3 separate regions of the Homo sapiens genome follow, and regions 1 and 3 are each linked to region 2. The links come from fine-mapping of genetic effects on gene expression. A gene starts in region 2. Each other region holds a variant in brackets. All regions are shown on one strand. Distances are from middle to middle.

Region 1 (8,187 bases), 41 kb before region 2:
TTTTAACTTTAAGAAGTAAGATATGTTCTGAGAAAAGTATTCTTTAACAGGTTCCAATCGTTCTTAAAGATTCATAGAACTTTATACATGGTGCCCAAATGTCTTTTCTGTCTATGTTAATAATAAGTAAAACTATTGTTTATAAAATGCAAACTAAGTCACAGATTTTGTACACCTCAAGGTACAGGGGAAGGTATTTTATAAAGTGGGTGCTGGACAATGGTCCAGATGTGTGACCTTTTTCAAGTTTTTGCTTGAGAGTTTAGAAGTTACATTTAAATCAATGATCACTGTGTCTAGGGTTATGTTTTCTAAACACAGCAGCCCTCTGGCTCAATCATGAAGATATCTCGTGAGTTCCAGAGGAACTTGGGTATATTTCTGTTTGTATAGAAAGACACTAAAAGAAAAGCATATTCTGGTTTTTACAGGTCTACCTTATTTTCTTCAAATTATATTTTAGTGACAACTTGAAGGAAATGCTATCAATGCTTCAAAACTCCAACACAGTTTTTTTGTGCTGCCACCACAGCATCATCTCTTCATGGTCTGATTGGTGTAAATACCACAGGGATAAGCAAAAGCATGAGACTGAAGACACTTTCTGTTTAGGAAAAATGGGTAACAAGTTGAAGAATGCTTCTCCCTGAAAAATCTTTGGGCTTCCTCTCAATGTTGTTCCTATTGTGTGGGTAGCTCCACCCCAGATACCCACACAAGAACTTGGCCAGGGTAAAAATCAAACCCTGTGTCTCAGGCCACAACAGAGTTTGATTTTACCCTGGCCCGGTTCTTGTGTGGGTAGCTGGGGTGGAGTCCTCTCATTCTTACTCTGCTTTTGTGGTGTGAAAGTCTAAGTTAACTGCTGATTGTTCTTCAACTTATTAGTGCTTTGCTATAATCTTAGGTAAAGTCAGAAATCCCATCAACTCATCTTATTGACATAGGGCAAAAGTACACCTGAATTTTTATTAGTTCAGAATTTTTTTAGAGTAAGAAGTCTTACTCTATAGTCTTTGTATATACGTACAAAGAGAACACAGCATTATGTTTTCATGACCTCGTACATCTTCATTCTTGAACCTTTTAATTTTCTCCCATCAGAAAATATTTTAATTATATAATGTTCAAAAAATTTAGGTGGGCATACTAACACAAAATCCATTTTCTCTGATTTGTAAACCTTTTTTTTTTAAATGAAGAGTTTTTGCTGCTTGCTTATATCTCTGTGGTTTGATGTTTTAGCCTCTTGATTAATCTCAATACTTTCTATCCTATGACTAAACTACTTTCCCTTGCATACACCCTTGGATTTCTACTGCACATCTTTTAAATTTTATGTCATTTATCATCTATATCTCTTCATCATTTTTTCTTAGATTTGTGTAATTCATGTCTCTTCTTTATTTGTAGAGAATCTAAATCTAGTCTTACATAATTGCTCCAGATGATAATAATCTATTTATTTATACTTCTAATTTGTCCCAGAAAGGACTTAAGGTGACATATATAATAATGCATAAAATATAGTGAGATGAATTCAATTGAAAATAAGAAAAGTTGACAAAGGGAAACTAATGGTGGGAAATTAAGATGAGGCCAAGAGCAAGGTCAGTGTTCAAATGCCTGCCTAATAGAGCCGCAGTTTGGCTTCCTGCTATATCCCTGTTTTTTGTTCACCAGCTTCATATCCCTCCCTATGTAGCTTGATGACCACAGCCTGCTTGTGATAGTTAGGGTTTTCCAGAGAAACAGAACCAATAGGATGCATGTGTGTATGTCTGTATATAGCTTTATTTAAGGAATTGGTGAATATAGAGACTGGCAAGTCCCAAATCTGCAGTTCATGCCTGCTGCCAGAATTCTCTCTTGCTCAGGAAGGTCAGTCTTTTGTTCTATTTAGAACATCCACTGACTGGATGAGGCCCACCCACTTTATAAAGGGCAAACTGCTTTCCTCAAAGTCCACTTATTTAAATGTTAGTCTCACCCAAAACACTCTTACAGAAACATCCAGAATAACGTTTGACCACATATCTGGGCACTATGGCCCCACCATGTTGACATAAAATTAATCACCATGCCACTAAAACCTGCAACTTGCCTTTAACCTCCACCTTGTCTTTCTTTTCCTTCCTACATGCACCCTTTCCATTTTCTCTAATTCCTGAAGCTTCAGTTATACTTCACTTTACTCCTTTTTTCTCACGCCTTCCGCTAAAGACACAGGATTCCCAAGGGGTCGTTAGGCCACGGGTTCCTATTTCCTGGGTTGGGTGAAATTCTTCTCCCTTCTGGTTGTTAACTACCGCTTTCAAATAAGTTCCTGGTCCATCTTGAGTGTCCCGCTTACATCTCCCCTAATGGCCCTTCCCCACCCTCTCCCTGTGCCCTACCCCTGGCTCTTTGTAAAAACTCCTTACATTGTTACAGGCCCATCGTGAACCATTTCTGCTAAAGGACTTTACGGTAGGAATTACCTTTGCTACATTAGGCCACGTTTTCTGGGTGCTGATGCAGCTGTATACAGGGTTACGTGAGTGCTTGTTTGAGTGTGTGTTATTGTCGTGAGAGTGGAGCAATAAAGACAGTCCCTGGGAAAAGTTTCCCAGGACCCAGTGGTCCAGTGTGTCTCTGCTACTAGAGGAAGAATGTGGTCCGCCACTCTACTTCTTGTTCCCTGAAGCCCAGACCACAGAGAGGGGTTGTGGGAATCAGTCTCTGCCTGGCAGGTTTTTGAAGCTTGTGAGGGGAAATAACTCTCTAGCTTTCTTTCAGATAGAAGAAAAAAAAAAAAAACAAAAATGAAATAAAAGTAAGACAAGTGGCTGTAACACAAAAAAACTTTATAGACAGAGATTCAAATATAAATCTGAATTGTTCACCCTTTTACTTTATAACCAGGCACCAGAGGACCCGTGAATGCATAATGATCATTTCTGAAATCTTTGGTAGTATTCCCATACAACCTGAGCCCATATTTCAGACCGGTCATAGCTGTGTGATTTAGGGGACGTCACACAGACTCTACTCTTAACTCCTCTGTAAAAGAGAATGAGTAATGTGTACCTCCAAAAATTACTGTGGGAAGTCAATAAAATAACATATGGGAAAGAGTTTTACAAGCTTTTAAGTGTTATGTGGACATTAGGTATTCAGGAAATCAGTTAAAGCCGCACTGAAGACATTAAAACAAACAATCAGATATTTGATACATAGAAAGCTGGGCAAATGACTGTTCAGCACTTTAAAGGTAGGAAGAAGAGGAGACTAGATCAGTCAGAGAGAAAGAGTTTAGTCATTTTCATATCATGATTCTTCCCTTCCCAGTGGAAAGTATATATGAGCATGTATGTTTATGTAATATAGATAGATGTGGCAGTAAATTGCCTTTCACTTTCTCTAGTCAAAATCAAAAATAATAATTTTTAAGCTAGGAAAATTCAGTAATTTGATGAGGGAATTTGGCTGGAAAAGTGAAAAACAATTCAAGGATAGGTATTTATAAATATATCAGAATATTATACATGTATTTTTGTATGCACATGTGTTTTATTTAGGAAGGAAATAACATGTTAACTTTTGCGTATCTTAATTTTTTATTCAGCATTGACTTCCCACCTGTTGTTTAACTTTTTCATTCTTTGTTTTTTTTTTTTTTTTTCCGTTGTGGTCAAGTGCGTATCGAAGACCACCTTAGCTTAGCTGAGAACGTTGTACTTGTGAAGCATTTGAATGTGGGCCACATCAAAGGTGAACAAAATAATTCATTTCCTGGCCCTGCTCAAGTATCCTCACCCTGAGAGTCTGC[C/T]CCTGTGGGCCACAACACTGCCACCCATAACAGTCACACCTCTCTTTAAACCCAGGTATATTTGGTATCTGTAACTCTCACCTGACTCTCACATAACAGTCAAATTATTTATCTCTTTGTAAACTTAAATTTACATTTATATGCTCCATCTCTCTTCACACCAGCTAGTGCTAATACCCAACACTGAGGGTGCCAGACAGTGTTCTAACATTACTTAAGTTAACTTAGTCAATATCTGAAATAACCCCGAGGAAGTTATTCTCATTGCATGCCTGAGAAAATTGAGGTGTGGAGGGTTGAAGTTTTTGCTCACCCCCACAGAGCCAAGTGCTGAGCAAAAGGTAGTCTGGGCTGGGTGCCGTGGCTCACACCTGCAATCCCAACACTTTGGGAGGCCAAGGCAGGCAGATCACTTGCGACCAGGAGTTTGAGACCAGCCTGGCCAACATGGTGAAACCCTGTTTAGTCTCTGCTAAAAATACAAAAGTTAGCCAGGTGTGGTGGCATGTGCCTGTAATCCCAGCTACTTGGGAGGCTGAGGCACGAGAATCACTTGAGCCTGGGAGGTGGAGGTTGCAGTGAGCTGAGATCACACAACTGCACTCCAGCCCGGGCGACAGAGAGGGACCCTGCCACAAAAAAAAAAAAAAAAAAAAAAAAAAAATAGTCTGGCCTCTGACATCACTCTCACCCAGAATTATGAAAGCTCAATAGGAATCAATACCTTGTCTCACAGTTTAGGTGCCTCCAGCCCCTAACCATTATTTGCATTCAAGAAAGGAACTGTAAATGTCTTATGGTTGTTACTCTTTGAAAACAAATCCTATAGTTATGGAAACAAACAAATAAAAAATGCTAGAGAACTTGTATTCTCCTAATACCATCTTTGATTAAGCTTTTACTGAGTTCAGAATTAAGGAATGTTAATGATACGAAAGCTTTTATAGCACTGATTTTTTTCAAAGTACCAACCTGTGGTTTGGTGACACAACTATAGAAACATGGATAGAAACTCCCTATTATGCAACAAACCACTTCCTGCATCTGTTTATTCATTTATTTGCAGTGTTTTAGCTAAACTCTTATCCACTTGTAGGGTCATATACTTGCAACTGTATCACTATATGTAGCATAAATATCACAAACTGCTGAAGAACATGGACTTGGTAGCTAGATTTTGAGGTTAGAATTCAATGTAATTCTGTATAAATAATACATACCTCAATAGGACAGTAGAAAAGATGACCTATGTTAACAAATGTAAAGCAATTAAAACAGTGCCAAGCACATAGTAAGTGCTTTATACATGTTTACTATTACTATTAAAACTCCAAAATTTCAGGAAATATACTTAGTTCAGCCTTCTGTAATCAGAAGTTTTGACTCAATTTAACCTGAGAGATAACAAAGTGAATGCCAGGCACGGTGGCTCACACCTGTAATCCCAGCACTTTGGGAGGCCGAGGCAGATGGATCATCTGAGGTCAGGAGTTTGAGACCAGGCTGGCCAACATGGTGAAACCCCATCTCTGCTAAAAATACAAAAATTAGCTGCGCTTGGTGGCACATGCCTGTCCCAGCTACTCAGGAGGCTGAGGCAAGAGAATCACTTGAACCTGGGAGGCAGAAGTTGCAGTGAGCAAAGATTGTGCCACTGCACTCCAGCCTGGGCGACAGAGCGAGACTCCACCTCAAGAAAAAAAAAAAGAAAGAAAGAAAAGAAGGAGGGAAAGAAAGAAAGAAAAAGAAGGAAAGAAAGAAAGAAAAGTGAAGCCTCTTTTCAGAGAACATCAGATCTTAGTTTTGGAAGGAAATCCAATTGTATGCTGCTCACACTTCTAATATACCTAAGAGGTAATAATAGTGATTCTGCTTGAACATTTCCAGTGATGGAGAACTTAACTACCCCTCAGAAAATTTCATTTTATAATTGGATAATTTAGTTATGAATAAACTTATATTTTATATTGAACAGAAATCTACCTTTCCGTAAATTCCACCTACTGGTTCCAGTGGTTAAATAGCAAAGCAGTGGTTTTTAAATTGTCTTGTGCAGAAATGTTTCAGAAGTTCTTAAAATGTTTGATCAAAATTTCATTTTTTTAAAAAGACATTTTTGAATCATTTGTTAAAACTGAAAAATTTAAAGGATGTGTAATATCCTTGGGAAGATTGCCTAACTTCTCCAATTCTCATCTTTTTCATCTACAAAATGAGTATAATTAGTAGATGAAAAATAAGTCTTCAATAAATGTTAACTGCATCTGTATAATTCTTATATTATTTGCATTTTGATACCAGCTATTAGAAGGCTTCCTTTAAAGCTCTGTGACTCAGAGGTCTTGTGGTTTCTCGCTGCAGACAATTCTCAGCTATCCTTTTCCTCAACTCAGTGGAGGATTTCTTTTGAGGGTTCAAACCCCCAACTTGGCCTTGTAATCAACTGAGCACAGGCTGACCTGGGTCTCCATCACTTCAAGGTAATCCACCAAGAGTGCTCACTCAACTCCCAGCCGCTACAGTTCCTGAAAATCTTCTAAGACAGGTGTTCAGATGCCCTGGCCTTGCTGTAATAGTAGTGGATGCTTTGGAAATCCACTGGAGCTGAGTTTTGCTAACACCAAGGTGCTGAGAGGTTTTCCACTGTGGTGTGATCCTGTGTAACTGCTGCCGACTGCATACCCTGCCATCCCTGCAGATTCTCAGCTTCCTGATTCTCTGATGGACCCTATGGCTTCAGAATAGGGAGAAATATGCCACAATAGAATTCTACTTTTGGGATAATTACCATCTTGTTAATCCAGCTTTGCAAAGGCTGAAGACTAGAGATTGGGTAGCTCTCAGTTCTCTATTCAGAAAACCAACGTATGTTTCTCCTGCCTACATACTCAGCTCCTCTGAGCAGGAGATAGTCAGGGAGAAGTCTGTCTGAGCTTGGCTCAAATGATATTCCCCTTTGGCTATGTGTCCTGTAGAGCTCTGTGGAGCATAATTTTGCTAGTTTTAAATATTATAAATGTAATACATTTTCATTGTAAGTTTTTTTTCAAACATTACTAGTATAAGTATACGGCATAAAATAAAAAGTTACATATCCCTACCACTATCTCACCCCCAGGTTTCACCACCCACTGATAGATCCTTATACATCTTTGAGGAAATTTCTCACTCTTATGCATATAACTATGCATAAATGTCTATTTTTATAAAAATATTGAAGGAGTCTTATAATAAATATATAAATATGTGCTTTATATACTTTAGTGTATTTTGGGCATTTTTCCATAGCAACACATTTAGGCTGCTTCCTTCTTTTTAATAAACACCTTATAATTTTATATTACATATTAAATATATATTAAAAGCTCTATAACATTTAATTAATATATTAAATGCTCTATAACATTTAATTAAGTTTAAAAATTTATTTACCCAGTACTTTATCAATGGATATTAAGATACTTTTCCTTTCTTTGTTTTTTTCATCCTTCCAAACTGTGGCAGGCAGTCTCAAAAGATGGCCCCCAATGAGCATTATCTCCTTGTGTATTCCCTTCCCTCATTGAATTAGTCTGTCCTGTGTAACAAGAAGACATTGTGCGAATGGCAACATATGACTTCCACGACTAGGTTATAAAAAGCATAGTGGCTTCTGCCTTGTACTTTCTTGAATTACTCATTCTGGGAGATGCCAGTTAACTTATCATGAAGATCCTCCAACAGTTATATTGGGAGGCAAGGGGTGAGGAGCTTGGCCCTCTTGCAACTTGTCAGCCCACAGGTCAAATTGGAATTGGATCTTCCAGCCCCAGTCAGACTTTGAGATGACTGCAGTCTCTGTCAACACATTGACTACAACCCCATGAAACAGCCACTCAACTAAATTGCTCTCCAATAACTGAGACACAGAAACTCTATGAGATAATGATGTCTATTATGACTTTAAACTTTAAAGTTTTGGGGTAATTTTTAAGCACAGGAGTAGATAACTAATAGACAAACAATGTCACAATGATCATCCACGTCTACTTATTTTTGTGAGAATATAAAAAGTCTGTAAAACAAATTCTTAGGAATAGAATTGAAAATAGTTGAAAAGAGTGTGAATTTTAAATTTCACTTAATAATATGCAATTTAATTTAACAGTGTCCCACAGTGAATGAGTGGGCTTCTCCATACCTACCCTCAACATTGAAGCTCACACTATAATTTTGCCATTTTATAACTTTTAAAAAAGTTTTTTTTTTTCCAACTTGGACTTAGTTATGCAGGAGGTTGAGCATTTATAAAATATTCATTGACAATTTATATTTATATTTCTGTTAACTGCCAATTTATATCTTAACTCGCTTTATATTGAATTGATCTTTTTGCT
Region 2 (8,187 bases):
ATCATAAACTAATATGAAGAGATGTTTCTAAGTTAATGCAGCACATTTTTTGTCAACTTATGCTTATGTTTTCACTTGGCACATCTTGTTGAATCAGAAGCAACTTGCAAACCAATAAATGTGAAAAATATCATTATCATGGCCTCATAATAAGTATGACGGATAGTGATGAGAAGAGGACTCTCTCAATGAAGACTCTTAAGTTTATTAATAATTAAATTAATTGATTATATTAGTTTCTTATCTGCAATAAGATTTTTTTTTGAAAAGTTATTTTTGGGAGGCCCACAATTCATACTCATAACTCTATACTAATAAGTGTCAATTAGAAGAAATCAGAAAAGTTTCCTTCCATAATTTTACCTTCATAATTACTGTTAATCTTTGAAATAGCAAGGGCTGTTTTTCGGTACCTTTTCTAATCAGAATGCATATAGTCTTCCTCCTTTTCCTTTGCAATCTACATTTGCCACTATCTCTGCTTCTAGTACATTGCCTAGGCTTGAGGTATAGGGTATATAAATTCTGCAATGAAACTCTAATGCTGTGGATCTATGAAAAACCGTATTTTGTAGTTGCATTATTCTTCTTCCAGTAGAATTATAAACTGTAAAATTTTAGAGCTTCAAGTGGTGTTAATGATCATTAGTACAACTGTTTTACTAAAGAGGACCCTAGGGTCCAGAAAGGGGTCATTAACCAAAGATCCATTGATAATTTTTAAATAAAGGATAATTTAAACTTAAACTTCTCATTTACATATGGGTCATTCACTGTCTTTCAGAAGCATGGGCATCTAAAAATTATAGTTTTTTACTATATGTGGCACTTTACAGGAATTACTAAAAAAAAAAAGGAGACATTTTAGGTGCACTTTTCTATTTGCCTTGATCTTGATTCTGTTATTGTTCTACAGTGAATGGGTGCAAGGAAATTCAAAGATAGGTACATTTTTAAAAATGGTTTTTGGTTGGAACCCAGAATTGTACATATTCCCATTTTTTTCCTTTCTGAACTCCAAAGTTCACAAGGGAAACAACCAGAAAAAAAATTACATGAAGAAACATAATGTAAATATATCTTATAATGTAGATATAACTTTTAGTTCCTAAAAATGTGCAATTAAAAATAAAATATTAAATGTATTGGGGAATTTAGTATTGATGGAAATTCTAGTGTGAAGGGTTGTTTCATAAGTACATAATAAAAACAAGTTACAACATCTGAGTATCTAGATTTTCAGTTATCGGTTTTATTTTAAATGTGCTATAACTATAATGCCTTCCGGTTGAAACTAGAACCATCTTTAACAAGTTAAGCTAGATGTCTCATTTAACTTCGCTTTTAAACCTAAATTCCATAATCTCTACATGGTTGCACAAAATCATCTTTCATATTTGTGAAAATATAAGGCTAGCTACCGTTTCTCAAACAGCAGAGTAAGAAGCAGAAGTAGAAATTTAGCTCCATTAATTAATTAAGGATTTATTTTACCTACTCATACAACAAGCAAGCATAAATAGAAATTAGGAAACACCAAAGATGCAGAGATAAACCAGAAATACGGTTGTGTGGTTGGTGAAACTGGGTGTGAAGAGGCCGTTCAGGTCCTCTCTCAGGATGATCAAAACCACAAACACGTAGAGACACCTCCAGGTTCACACTAGGTTGGTCAGTGAAATGCGTCCTGAGTGTTTTCTAGGCATTCTGAAGACTTGAAGGGTGCAAGTGTCATCCTCCTTTGCAGGTCTTCCCAGAAACATCCACCTCCTGAGTCATGGCGACTTGTGTATGATACGATCCCAGGCCTGGGAATCTCCTGAGAAGGGTTAAACAGGGATGCCCAAAATACTAGCCCTGGCAAATTTTTCCTAGTCATTTGGTGGTTAGTCCAGAGCTTCTCAAACCTGCTGAAGCGAGCAGGAACACCTCTCTGTATAAATGGCTTATCTCCATTTAGGGGTAGCCTCTAGGGTTAATCCAGGAGCTTTAAAAGCTGTCTGTCTTTTTCTGTCCTGTTTTTCCCGGTCGCCGCACGCTGTCCCGGTCCGCGCCTGCTCCCTGCGTGCCTTGTCGCCATGCCTCCGAAAATTGAGGAAATCAAGGACTTTCTGTTCACAGCCCAATGAAAGGATGCTGAATCTGTCAAGATCAAGAAAAATAAGGACAATGTGAAGTTTAAAGTTCGATGCAGCAGATATCTTTATACCCTGGTCATCAGTGAAAAAGAGAAGGCAGAAAAACTGAAGCCAGTCCCTGCCTCCTAGTTTGGTAGTGAAGGAGTTGAAATGAACCAGCCACACTGATTTGAACTGTATTAGAATACAAAAAAAAAAAAAAAAAAAGACTGTTCTCACTAAGCTTACTCAAATATTATATTCAACAAATATTTGCAAATACTAATAACTTAATGATTCTTTCCTAAACCTCAGGTCCTGTGCTGGGCGTTTTATATGTTTTTCTCAATCTTCACAATGATCATGTGGGATAGATGCTACTGTCAACATCCATATTTTGGAGAAAAGACAACCGAGACTTAAAGAAGGTTAATTCTCCAAAGTCACAAAATGAGTATATTCAAGTGTGTTACCATGGTAGTCAGTTACTCTAATATCCAAGTTTGCTACCAAGTCAGTTACTCTCTCTAGTTCCTTTATCTGTAGACTGAAGTTGTTTCTTCTCTCTCCTTTAAACTTCTCTTTTGCCTGGTTTACTGACCACATGATCTCAGTGGAGAGGTAAATCTGAAAGTGGGGAATTTCTTTTTTTGAGGCAGAGTCTTGTTCTGTCGCCCAGGCTGGAGTGCAGTGGCGTGATCTTGGCTCACTGCAAGCTCCGCCTCCCGGGTTCATGCCATTCTCCTGCCTCAGCCTCCCAAGTAGCTGGGACCACAAGCGCCTACCAACACGCCTGGCTAATTTTTTTGTATTTTTAGTAGAGACGGGGTTTCACCGTGTTAGCCAGGATGGTCTCGATCTCCCGACCTCGTGATCTGCCGCCTCGGCCTCCCAAAGTGCTGGGATTACAGGCGTGAGCCACCATGCCCGGCGGAAAATAGGGGATTTCTAATGAAGGCCAATGGATGAAGACATTTCCTGGAGTATAAGGGCATTTATGTGTCTTACTACACATTGACAATTTGCCTGTGCCTCTCCATCACTTTCTCTAGTTGGTGCCTCTGACAAATTTTTTTTTGATTATATGCTGTATATGAAAATCCAGAGTCATGTTTGAATATATTTGGCTACTACCTTATTATGTGCTGCATATGAATATCAGTTTCACCCACTCAGGTCAAAGAAATGTAAGTACAGATAGAGAAACATATCATGCCTTTAATCTGTCAAAGTGGTAGAAATTTAATATCAACTTGCAGCTCCCATCTTTCTCCTATGCTAAATTACAAGGCATTAGGGGACAGAGTGGGGGTTTGAGAGCCCCTCTGGTCCTTGAGTCAGCTTTCTCTGTCGGTTACTGTTGAGAAATCCACCATTTGCTGGTCCCAGGCCACGTTAATAGTTCCACTCATGTTATTGTTAAGATGTCCCTGCTTCCTGTCCATGAATTTCTGTGTTAAACCTGAGGGTTCAGAATCATTGTTGCCCCTGTGCCACACATCATCTGCAATCTCCAATGCTGTCCATGACCTTATCTGCTTGAGTGATGTTCCCCAAATTTCAGTCTTTTTCCTACTATACCCACAATTTTTTATTCATTTTTTGACATATCTGGTATCCTCAGTATTATTAACTTAATAGTTTTTAAAATAAGTGAAAAGAATTTAAAAGGAACAACATTGCTGCAATAGAAAACTAGTATCACTTGTCATAAAAAGAAGGCAGCTACAAACACATTTTATGAAACCCAAATAATATCATTACATTCTTGATGGATACTGTCTGCCAGGTCACATACTTCTTAGCCTAAACTTATGCAATAAAACCAGAAGGATGCTCTGCTCCAATGGGAGGGATTCTGGGAGAGGGAAATAAAATGGGTCAACGTTTCACAAGTAGAATCCCATTTTTGTTCATTTATACTTAGATCTAGAGGCAGGGTGGTGTGATAGGGAAAGCACAGGCCTAAAAGTCAGATCTAAGTTATACAAGTCACGGTCATTGACTCGAGATGACCGGAAACAGGCCCGCTTTACTTTCTGGACCATTCTCCCTTCCTCCCTAAAATGCAAGAATCCAACAGCCTAGACTTCCCTTCTGCGTACCGGCTTGCCCTGAGGAGCTGAACTACATCTCCCACAATGCGCCGCGCGCGGCGCCAGGAATGCCTATCGCCGCCTCAGACAGCTTTCAGTCTGTCCCTCCTACAACTCCCACAAGGCCCCTCGGCCCCGGGCCGCGGCCCGGCCCGGAGTGGGGGCGGGCGGAGGCGCGGGAGTTATGGAGGGGGCGGGCTCTGCAGGGAAGTGCGTCAGAGGAGGCGCGGGGAGAGTAGGGTGCTGTGGTCTGAGCTAGAGGGTGAAGCTGGCGGAGCAGGAGGATGGGCGGTGAGTGAGCGGGACCTGCGTCGCCGGGCAGGGGTCGCGTCGCGGTTCCATGTTCCCGGCGGTTTGAAGAGGGGCCCCCTTCCCGGGCGTGGTCGGGCTGGGCGGGTTCCGAGCGGCGGATTTGTCCCAGGGCCGAGCCCTCTAGGGCGGGGCCTGGTCGGGTACCGGGGGACCCTGGCCCGGGGCCGAGCACGGCTGCCCCGCCCCAGCCCTGGCCTTCTCCGGCCCCGCCGTGAGGCCCAGGAGGTGGCTGCTGCAGGCGTCCGGCTTGGACGAACCGCCGTTCCCAGTGCTGGGACCCTTTAAGGTCATTTGAGAGCACCAGGATGAAGGGGGGATTTTTAAAAAATCAAAATACAAATCCAACTTTTTGAGTTTTCGTTGTCATTGCTCTTATCTTTCCTGAGTCACTTCCCATTTTCCAAACTCAGCAACCCCAGTTTGCGAGTCTGTTTTCATGAACCTTTGTAAGGTGTTTGGTGCGGTCACGGTGTATACTTGCCGTGTAGTATTTGACTCAGCGCGATCTGCCTTGAGTCATTTTACCGCGGCCATTTACTACTGCCGTTGAGCCCTGTCCACGCCTTGGGAGTGTTGATATGTTGAGAGTTTTCTGTCTGGCTGAGGAGGGATCATTTAGTTTTTGCGGACGTATGTTGCACTGAGGATTTAGGGAGAGAGCAAGATTTCTGTTGAGGAGGTTCAGAAGTATAAGGAATCGGGAGAGTAGATAGGAGTGAAGCATTTGGCAGCGTAAAGAAGCTTGGCTTAGCTTTAATGGATTAGGGAGAGATTGCTATCTAGCATTATTACATGTTATTGTTCTCTTTGCTATTTTATACACCTAGAACAACCTTTCCCTCGGGGTTAACAAACATCTTCAACTCTGTTTTCTGTATGGCTCCTGACTCTTACCTTTGTTTTAGGAGGCTTCCCTCTTCAGAGGAAACTGGGAGAAGCCAATTTCCACTGCTTCTTTTTCCTGTGCCTTTTTAACACTCAAACCCAGAACACTTAATCCTCTGCAGCTCGTGCAAAAATTCAGTCTGTAATTTAAAATGTGTGCACGGTACACTGCTGACCATGGGCATGTCTATTGTTTGTATCTGTAATGTGTATGTCCATTTCAGTGTTGTCTGTTTTAGTATGCAGGTGATAGACTAGAGAACAAGACCTCTGTCTCCGTAGCATCCTGGGTATGTGAGCATTCAATAAGTACTTTTATGAGAATGAGTTTTGTTTTAAGCTTAATTAAAAACATGCTTGCTTTCTAAAAAAAATTCTTAATGGTTATATGTACGAAGGGATGGGGAATTGGGTAAAGGGTGCATTTGGAATAATTCAAAATAATCTTTCTTATTTGTCCGTAAACTCTAACTTATCTTCTTTCTTCAACTTCTAAACAGAGCAGTCTGAATGCCAGAATGGATAACCGTTTTGCTACAGCATTTGTAATTGCTTGTGTGCTTAGCCTCATTTCCACCATCTACATGGCAGCCTCCATTGGCACAGACTTCTGGTATGAATATCGAAGTCCAGTTCAAGAAAATTCCAGTGATTTGAATAAAAGCATCTGGGATGAATTCATTAGTGATGAGGCAGATGAAAAGACTTATAATGATGCACTTTTTCGATACAATGGCACAGTGGGATTGTGGAGACGGTGTATCACCATACCCAAAAACATGCATTGGTATAGCCCACCAGAAAGGACAGGTATTTCTCTTATTTTAACTTCTGTCTTCTTCACCTGGTTAATAATAGACAAAACGACGTAATGATTGCCCAATTACATGTAAGCAGGTTTGTTGGTTCTCTCTCTCCTTAAAGAAATAAATCGTGTATCTTCTCTTTCTACTGCCTTCTCTCCCCAACTTCTTTGCATTACCATGGTACTCATCAATATTGGTTGGATGAGGAACTTTTCTTATCTTGGGAAAGCCTTAATGGCTTTTTTTTTTCTTATTTACTCACTCATTAAAATACTTTTCATTACTCTAACACATGTTATAAAGAAATAGTTGGAAAAGTACATCGAAAGACTTTTAAAAATATTTGGTAACTAGTAAAAGGACTACCATCGAAAATCAACTCAAAAAATTGTCCTTTTATGGGTTAGCTGTATTATAATACATATCTATCATTTGCCCCTGTGTCTTAGAGGATATAATTTGACCAGCTCTACATTTAATCTGTGTAATTATGAGACTGTTTTACAACAATCTTGATGCAGAGTTGGTAGGTTAAGAAATTTGTATTACAGAAGTTAAAAAAAAAAAACCAAAAACTAGATTTTTAGGTTTATTTTACAGGCATTCTTATTTAACACTTAAAGATTTTGATTTCCAGTTATTAAAATGGTAGCTTTAGAACTCTTTGTAAGGAACAACTTTACAGTTTATTTATGACTACTTCTGTTGGCCCCTTAGTGGGGAAGCATTGTATTCAAATCATAGCAGAACAGGCTTGAGTTATGATATATCAAAAGGATGATAATATGTCACTGTATCTGGAAAAAAAGATAATTTGGAAGGAAAGGAGAGAAAGTTGGTTAAAATTCATTGTAAAATGTTCAGTTTGACTTATGAGGTTACAGGAGCACTTGATATTGAAATTGGAGTTGGAATTGGAGTGTTACCATTTAGTCATTCATTAAACAAATAATTTATTGCATGTCTCCATGTTCCAGGGCCTCTTAGCTGGGAGAACATCAGGAAAGAACAAAATCCTTACTCCTGGGGAGCTAGCATTCTAATAAAGGATGACAGGCAGTGAACAGAATATAACAGTATAAACAGAATAAATAATTATTCAGTATGTTAAAAGATGACATGTGCTATGGCAAAATAGAACACAAAAGGGATTTGGAAATATGTGGGAAAAGGAATATTGGTGGCCATAGGTTATGATTTTCAATAGGATACTTAAAGTAGGTCTCATTGAGAAGACACCACTTGAGTAAAGAATGTAGTTAAAGACTAGACAAAAGAGTTGGCCATATGGGTAAATGGGGAGGAAGTCATTTAGGTTGGAAAGGACATCTACTGCAAAGGCTCTATGGCGGGAGCATGCCTGAAATATTCAAGGACCAGTAAGGAAGCCACTGGGCTGGAATGGAGGGAGAGACGGGAAGTTGGGTATGCTGTTAAAGACCTACTTTGGGAGTGGGACTGGGGCAAATCCTGGAGGACTCTAGGCAGAATGAGAACTTTGGTGTTGACTCCAGATACAGTGCTGAGCCCTGATCTGGTCACCCTGGCTGTTGTGAGAACAGAGGCAGCAGACAAAGGTGGAAACTAGAAGACTATGGTTAGGAGGTTATAGAAGTAATTCAGGTTAAGTGATGATTATGACTCACACCAGAATGGTAGCACTGAGCAGCAGCTGGATTCTGGACATAGTTTGAAGGAAGAATTCCTGGGATTTCCTGATGGAGTGTAAATGTACAAGAATTACTCTAAAGTTTCTGGTCTGAGGAACTGGAAGTGTGGATTTGGCATTCCCTGAGATGGGAATATGGTTGATAAAGCACGGTTGCATGAGAAGATCAACATTCCTATTTATTTCAGTCTTTGTTCCCTCCCCTTCTTCCTAGGCTTTCTACATAGCTATTCTGCCATTCATTTTACTGCTTCCACTTTATTTTTCTTCCTTGTGCCTATGTCTTCAGCCTGCCACTGAGA
Region 3 (8,187 bases), 25 kb before region 2:
TAATTCTTAGAATTAACCTAAGGTATAAGACTGTTGCAGCATCCATGTCCTACTCCCTGAAGAATTTAGAATCAAAGTCATCTGTTTTTCAGGTTGGAGGGGTCATTTGAAACTACGTAGTTCAACTTCCTCCTTTCACACCTAAGAAACTGAGGTCTTTGTAGCCGGATGAGGAAGCCTCTCACCTAAACTTCATAGTTAGAGGTTATTATAGGTCCCAGATCCCATGAAAGCCATACTCCTGTTTTACCCAGTCTAATCTTTCTATTCAGGGACCTTGGACTTGACACGTGGCACTACTTAGATAAGAAGCCTGAGGAGCAAAGGCCTCTGTGGAGGAGTTTTGTAGAATGAGATGGGAGATTAGAAGAATACAATAAAGGGAAATGTTTTTAACTCCTGCAGGAATTTTTTCAAGGTATGGTTTGAGGACTGTGGTTTCACCAGGAATCTTACAATAATCCAGTCCCCTAAAATTCCTGCCATTATTTTGTTATAGGGAGGATATTTTCGGCAAATAGGAGTAGAGGTCATGCATGAGACAGCCAGTCTAGGAAGGCAGTTCAGCTCTCCTTCAGGTTTGCTTTAGTCATGCTATATTAAAAGTTGTGAGAATTTTCCCAGAAAAGAAAGCTATATAACAGAATGTTAAAATTGAAATTTCAACAAGGCATAAAGATAAAATAAATGCAAAAATCTCAAGTAAGTTGTTGCTAAGTCACTATATGCAGATGGTACAAGCATAATATCTGGGAATGGATTCCAAACTCTTGGATCCCGTCAGAGAATAAAGAGAGGGTTTTTGTGAGCTTTCCTTAAAAGTGACTAGTAGCTGTGCTATGGGGCCTCAGCTTTTTCCACTTGGGAAAGTTACTGTCTCCTACACCAAGCCCAGCAAGCTGGGAGGGGCTTCCGTGGGACTACTCTTAAAGAGCTTAAGTGTGTTTGCAGTATGCCAGAGCACTCTAGACAAGTTGATTCTCTCCTGAAAAGTCTAAATACAAAAGTTGGTTCATTAGGACTTTGATGGTCAGGCCAGGAATTCGCTGTTGCGTGGGGACAAAGATGCTTTGGCAATGTTGCATGGGGGCAAAGATGATCAGGCCAGGAATCCACTTTGCATGGGGGCAAAGATGCTTCATTGTTGCCTGTGAACCAAGGGTTGGTGATGGGGGGTAGTAACTGGTGTATAGTCCCTCTGCTGGTGGACCAGAGGCTAAAGAGGGGTGGGCATCCTGGGGAATGAGGAGTATCACTTAAGTCTTGAGAGTTGATGTTGGAGATGTCTCCTATGATGGGATGTTCAAAGAACCCATAAAATTGGCTCAACTGCATAACCTTCGCTATCTGCCATGCCCAAAGAACAGGAAGTTGCTCAACAAACCAAATCCCCCTACCTTTCCTCTCTGCCTCACCTAAGGTTATCAGAAAGAATATAAGGCTCAGTTAGATTTGAATTTCAGATGGACAAATAATCTTTGGGACATACTTATACTAAAAAATCATTTACTATTCATTTAAATTCAAATTTAACTAGGCATCTTGTATTTCTATTGACTAAATCTGGTAACCTTACCCCCACTCCACCTTTCTTTGAGCAGCTGGTGAGTAGGTGAATAGTGAGAGGAAGGAAAGAACGAAATTGACACTGTGTTTTATGCTTCAAAGCTCTTCCCAAAGAGTAAGAAGAAAAGTCAATGGACCTGCCAAATTCTTCAGGCAAGGGCAGAAGAAGAGTGCCCTAATGAATAAATTTTAAAAGGTTAGAATGGGAATAATAAATAAAAATTATGTTTTGCGTATACCACAAATCTTTGTTAAATAATCCAGGTCTGTCTGTCTAACTCTGTTTATTGAGCTGTTCCTCTTCAGGACCATAATTATTAATTTCTCTTGGAATTAGTACTTTTCAGAACATATTTAGGGAAATTTTACCTTATCATATAACTAAAGGATTGTATTAGAGAATCTTGGCAAAGCTTTGGTGGGGAACTAGTTTATAAGGTAAGTCCTTTAGGATTTCAGGTAAAAGAAAATTCAACTCAAACAGGCTTAAATAACAAAAGAAGTGTACAGGTTCAGTTACTTGGAAGGCTCAGGTGTAGGCTGGTTAATCTAGAAGCTCAGTCATGCCAACAAGGACTCCATTTTTATGTTTTGTTTTGTTTCATTTTGCTTAGTTTTGACTTTGTCTTTTCTTTTTACAGTCAACCATGTAAACTTTATTCTAAGTCTGGCTCTCTTGTTTCATAGGGTGGCTTCAATAGGGCACAGAGAAAGAGAGAGCAATGCTGTCTTGGCATTCCAAACAGCCTGGTTGGTTGGTCACATGCCCACCTTATAGTGAAGTCTATCAAGGCTTTGCCAGGAGGCTAAGAGTGGGTTCAACTTTTACAAAAACACAAGAGCTGCATGAGAAAGACCAGATAGATGACTGCCTAGGCATAAGAGTCCTGAATTATTTTGAGAAAAATGAAAGCATGAGAATGGATGCTGGGTCAACTGTCAAGTTTCCACCACCGTTGATTATTTAAATTTCTGCCATTGACTGCATGCAGGGGAGATACCAAAAACTATTTATCTGTCTGCATGTTTATGCAATCAACCAATCTGAAAGGACCTGGCTTTCAGTGGAGAAGCCTGGCTCCCAAGGGTCTCTTGTTTGCAAGGTGTTAACTCCTTAGTTGCTATATTGAAGTGTCCAAAAGCTACTAGGGAAGGTGACAGAAGACCATGATAGAGTGGGGCACTCAGAGGACACAGGGCAGTGGCAATTTACCAACTGAAGCAGAAATATATCAATATATTTTAACAACCTTTATACTTGTACCCATGTGTGCCAGCTGAATTTTTTTTTAAAACCACAATGTGATTTTGCTTCTGAATAGACTCTCCATTTCTCTTAGTTTTCTCATTTTAAAAATGAGTGGATTGGATTAGATGATTTTAAGAATTCCTCTGAAAACAATGTTTGTGTTGTAGTCTATAACAATTTATATAAATGACCCTTTAATTCTATCATGTACATTGTGATATGTTTCAAATAGAATATCGTAAGCAGTTGTTACACATTTTAAAATGCAGAGAACCAAATTTCCATTTGAAATTTGGCACGTTAAATTTAACTGAATTTAAATTTAACTGGATCTGCATGCTGAAATTTTCAAATAGATTGTTTTTAAGACCATGAGGGATTTCTTGTTGTTTCTCATTTTCTGTGTTTTGCTTGTAAAATGTGAGAAAAAGACAACCAACTTAACACCTTAAAAACCACTAATGTTGTTTTGACCTTAACGAGAACTCAGGAGGCACAAAAACAGAATTGGCTAAAGGAAAATTAGAGTTAAG[A/G]TGGAAGCCATTCATTCGCCTAAGGATGGTTCAGTGGCTGAAGTCATTCATTTCCGGCAGCTGCCGTTGGCCAGGTTACCCAAGGATGGAGAGAGAGGAAGGGAGTAGTAGACACAGGTCATTCCCACTTCCCCACCCCGACAGGTTCAAATGCCCTCACAGGTATGGGTTTTTCTCCAGGGTTTCACCTGCTACTATAACACTTCCTGAGAAGTCTACCCAATCTCTTAGGTTTTTACCTGGCTTGTCATCTTAGATACAAAAACCTCAGAGGACAAATTTTTTTACTAAAATAAATGGGAAATCAGCGACAATGATGATGCTGTTTCCTCCCTCCCTCCCCTTTCTTTGTCCTCCTTTACCCATCTCGCCCAAATCAGTTGATCGTCCCAGAGGGCAGGGTTGCAGGCACTAAAATTATAGGCAAGAGGAAAGAGTAATATAGATTATCTTTTTCTGCAGAGACGTGAGTGTTTGTAGTATTCTGAATTTTTGGTCTGTCCGATGGAGCATTTCAAGCATTTGCAGATCTAGACTTGTGGATTTTTCTGAACAAGTTGCCAGAGCTATCAAAATTAAGAAAAGCTCTTGACCTTTGAAGAGAGAACTTCTTGTCTAAAGCTAGCATTTTCTCCTATCTTCAGAGCAAAACCGGTGGCTAAGTAGATCCCTAAGTCCCCCTCCTTCTCTTTATATATAATTTTTGATATAGTTGTATGTATATACACATCTACATTAATCAACTCAGATGAAAAACTTTACTAAGAGAAACTTCTAAGGGAAAAGAGCCACAGGTATAGGGATGAATGATCTTATCTTTCTAAATGTGTTTTCTCTTATAGCACTGGATATAGATAAAATGCGTTCATAATGCTTTTTACAAAAATAGTTCTGAAATATAATTTATAAAGTTTGTTGCCCAGAGGCTAAAATAAATTTATTAGTCACAGATGAGTGCTGTGGTTCTAATAGGTCTGCATATGTGGGTAAGTATATATCATGCCTAATGTATGTTATATAGAGTTTATATACATTCCTCCAACAACAGCTTGATAAACATTGTCTCCGCAATTAAATTAAATTATCTTTAAATCAAAATTCATTTTTGAATATTTATAGATCTGTCTCAGTGCATACAGGGCCAAAAAAGAATATAAAATAAAAACAAACATTACTTGTAAGACCGACATAAGTCGCCTCACTTACTGAGTTTTCAATAACCCCAAGTTAAATAATGTTATTTTCATTTTACAGATAAGAAAACTGAAGGAGAAAAATGTTAATAACTTGTCGAAGGTCTCACAGACTTTGCTAGTGGTAGGCTGTTATGGTTTCAAACTCAGTTTTTCTAATTTTAAAGCCTTTATGTTTTCCACTCTATCACACTATCATATTGTATATTTTTTTACTTTACCCTCCTTTTTTTTTCTTAGTAAGGGGAACTAGCTATGTTGCCCAGGCTGATCTTGAACTCCTAGCTCATGCAATCCTCCTGCTTTCAGCCTCCCTAGTAACTGGGACTACAGACACGCCACTGTACCCAGCTCATTATTATTATTATTATCGTTATCATTATTATTATCGAGATGGAGTTTCACTCTTGTCGCCCAGGCTGCAATGCAATGGTGTGATCTTGGCTCACTGCAACCTCTGCCTCCCGGTTTCAAGCGATTCTCCTGCCTCAGCCTCCCTAGTAGCTGTGATTACAGGTGCCAGCCACCACACCTGGCTCATTTTTGTATTTTTTTTTTTTTTTATTAGAGACGGGGTTTCGCCATGTTGGCCAGGCTGGTCTCAAACTCCTGACCTCAGGTGATCCGCCTGCCTCAGCCTCCCAAAGTGCTGGGATTACAGGTGTGAGCCACCGTGGCCGGCCCCAGCTCATTATTTTTAAGGCATTCCTCATTGTAATTTTCCAGGGAAATAGGAAAAAAAGTTTGGAAATAGTGGAAAACTCAATAACTTTAAACTAGTGTTTATTTAAAAAATAAACACTAGTAATAGTAATGATATTAGTCATATTTATAGTATTAAAAATTACTACCTATACAGCCTAAGAAGTCATTGAGGATTATTTTATAAAGCCAGTTAACCAAGAGACACATTAGGGGCACATTTTTACAATTCTCTACTTTGCTTAATATATGACTTTAGTAGCATGAAAATGTAGAAAACACTTATCATTCCGTTGTATAGTATGCTATGTCTTTGCCATACTTGAAAGCATTTCTCAAAAAGATGTTTGAACCTTCAGAAAATTTATATTCTCTCAGAAAAAAAAATTGTTCTATATATGTTAGCTCAGGTTTGCACAGAAGACCCCAAAATGGGATTAGGCAAGAATTGGGGAAGGGAGCTAGAAGACATGGGAGAACCCTCAGACTGAGGTCTGATTTGCATGGGGAGAAAAAAGGAAAGGGAGGAGAACTGGGTACCCAGATTGTTTTTCACAAGTTGTTTTGTGAATTCAATTGAGATAATATATGTGAATGATTTAACAGTTCCCGGGTGCTAAATAAATACTCCATAAACATAGGTTTTGTTTTTAATTTCAATTTTTAGAAATCATTGCAATGAGAATTGTAGATACTCGGTGCAAGTCATCTGCCCTGTGCATTTTTCTTGTAACAAAGCTGTACCGTTATAATGGAAAATTGATGTCAGACTAGTGGTTCTCCTTCCTTGACTGCTTAGTGAGCAATCTTCAGACATCCTTGAAGCTAGAAAACTTTCTAGGTAAACCCGAGGGAAAGCGAAAGCACTCAGAGTCAACATTTTCTTCTTATGTCTGCTTAAATACAAATTTTATTCTAGAAATATTTTACTTTAAAAATCTTTGTAGTTTTATAAAATATCATGCTCTTTGCAAATATTTTAGAATAGAACATTTGGAAAAAACAGTAAAACTCAAAGTATTATTCTGTCCAACCAATTCTAATTTACACTTAATTTAAAAGTTGAAATATTTTAAAATAAAATAGAAGTTGTGTCTACATAAACAAATTAAATTGACCTTTGATTTAACAGACAAGTCAATTTAGTAAAAGTAAAATTGAAGCTTTGAATCAAAACAATGATTTGCTGTTTGATATGAGAACAAATATTATTTGATTGAGCTTTAATTTACATCATTTTTTCAGAACTTAAATTATATCAAAGTCATGGATGTTAAACTTAAAATTGGACATGACATTTAAAAATTCTTATTTTGACTTTGAAGGAAAAGGCAAAACTTGTACATATTATTGTAATATAATAAATATACAAAATAAATATTATATTTATATTTTATATAATAGATAAATATATAATAAAATAATATTTGTTTTATGTGATGCATGACATTTATTTCAGCATCCTTTATTTTAACATTTTAAAAAAGTACATACTCATTATAGAACATGTAAAATATTCAGAAAAATATGAAGAAAAACAAATTAAGGATAAAAATAAATTTGCCCTTGGTTCTACTACCTAGAACAGCCATTGTTAACATTTTAATATATTTCCTAAATAAAGTAAGCTGGGATAATTACTCCTTAATGTTAAAAATAAATGTTAGGATTAATACTCTGGTATCATGTTCTTTTATTCAAAATTATGTTTAATTTTTCTCTTTGGTTGTGGGTCAATGATTATTAACTCATTATTTTACCTCATAACATCCTTAACTTCTCTTAAAAGTGATACACAGAAAATGTTGTTTCTTACTTAAAGAAACTTTAAATCAAGTTTCTATGTTTGGGGCAGTTTATAATATACTACATAGAGAAACCCTTATCTCTTAAAACTACAATTGGGAGTTGCTATTAAAACGAGGAAATTATTAACACAAATGTGCCTTCCAAAAGTGTAAATGAAGTTCCCGAAAGACAAGGGCATTGTCTACCAAATTTCTTCTGCACGTGGCCCAAGGCAACTCATTGTCTTAACAAGTAACATTTAATAAAGAAGATGGTAAAAGTTTAAATTCCTAATGTCAGTTTAGGTTCCATATGTCACAGGCACAAAATCTAGAGCGTGAGATTTGGGATTACATTTACTTTTCTTTCTTTGTCGCCATAGATATATAAGAAATCTGTGACCAGAAAAATTTTAAGGGATAGAGAAAATGAGATAATAGAATTTAGTACATATCTACCATTTTTTTGGTTTTAATTTTTTTGAGACGGGCTGTTGCTCTGCTGCCCAGGCTGGAGTGCAGTGACACAATCTTGGCTAACTGCAGCCTTCGCCTCCCAGGTTCAAGCCATATCTACTCTTTCTAAAAAACATTTTCTGGTGAAGGACACTGTCATAGGTGTCATAGCATTTGTGCTTTAGTGTGGACTTGGGTGTTACATTGAGCAAAATAGATAACTGTCCATTTCCTATGTGCAACATACTTTTGAATCAATTACAGGCTTCAAGTGGCCATCAGTAGGATAGAAAATGCCATTTGTGATAGATCACAATTAAGAGATTATATAACAGAAAAGAAAACATGTTACAGTTTTTAGAAAAAGTTATATTTTTAATAAAATGGACTTCCTCTTCCCTCAAGAAACATCTTTTTTTAGTATTAATTGTGAATAGGCAAAGGATTTGTTTATTTGAGATATTTGCTTTGGAAAAAATAAGAAAAATAATTTGAGTGAAAATTATTGCAATTAGGCAAAGGTAGTGGGGAGAGAGAGAAAGAGAAAATCTGGGAATCAGGAAAGAATACAGTGAAGTGGAAAGGCCATGAGCTTTGCGATTACGTAGGTCTGAGCTTAACTGAAATTGGGGTTTCATTTCTGGTTCATTACATTAATAATTATGTGAAACGATTCCTCTGAGGGCTATTTTCTTCATCTA

The links. PIP is the estimated chance that this variant, and not a neighbour inherited with it, causes the effect.
Region 1: its variant is fine-mapped to the expression of CLDND1 in whole blood (TOPMed, PIP above 0.99).
Region 3: its variant is fine-mapped to the expression of CLDND1 in whole blood (INTERVAL, PIP above 0.99).

What each region holds. Positions count from the first base shown.
Region 1 is chr3:98,560,428-98,568,614 of GRCh38, reverse strand. No RefSeq gene overlaps it. Among named protein-coding and RNA genes, the nearest start is that of CPOX, 29 kb to the left of the region's middle. RefSeq lists a silencer at 5,180-5,239 and an enhancer at 6,294-6,343. The variant C/T (reference allele first, on the strand shown) is at 3,812.
Region 2 is chr3:98,519,166-98,527,352 of GRCh38, reverse strand. CLDND1 (claudin domain containing 1) reads left to right here and starts at 4,451. Exons shown (of 5, transcript NM_001040181.2): 1 at 4,451-4,504; 2 at 5,911-6,220. The coding sequence starts at 5,929. It overlaps CLDND1-AS1 (CLDND1 antisense RNA 1), which reads right to left and starts at 4,783. Exons shown (of 2, transcript NR_198998.1): 1 at 4,520-4,783; 2 at 1,466-2,142. It also overlaps the pseudogene RPL38P4. RefSeq lists an enhancer at 2,873-3,002 and silencers at 4,205-4,844, 4,895-5,004.
Region 3 is chr3:98,543,993-98,552,179 of GRCh38, reverse strand. No RefSeq gene overlaps it. Among named protein-coding and RNA genes, the nearest start is that of GPR15, 16 kb to the right of the region's middle. RefSeq lists an enhancer at 25-74 and a silencer at 5,957-6,006. The variant A/G (reference allele first, on the strand shown) is at 3,349.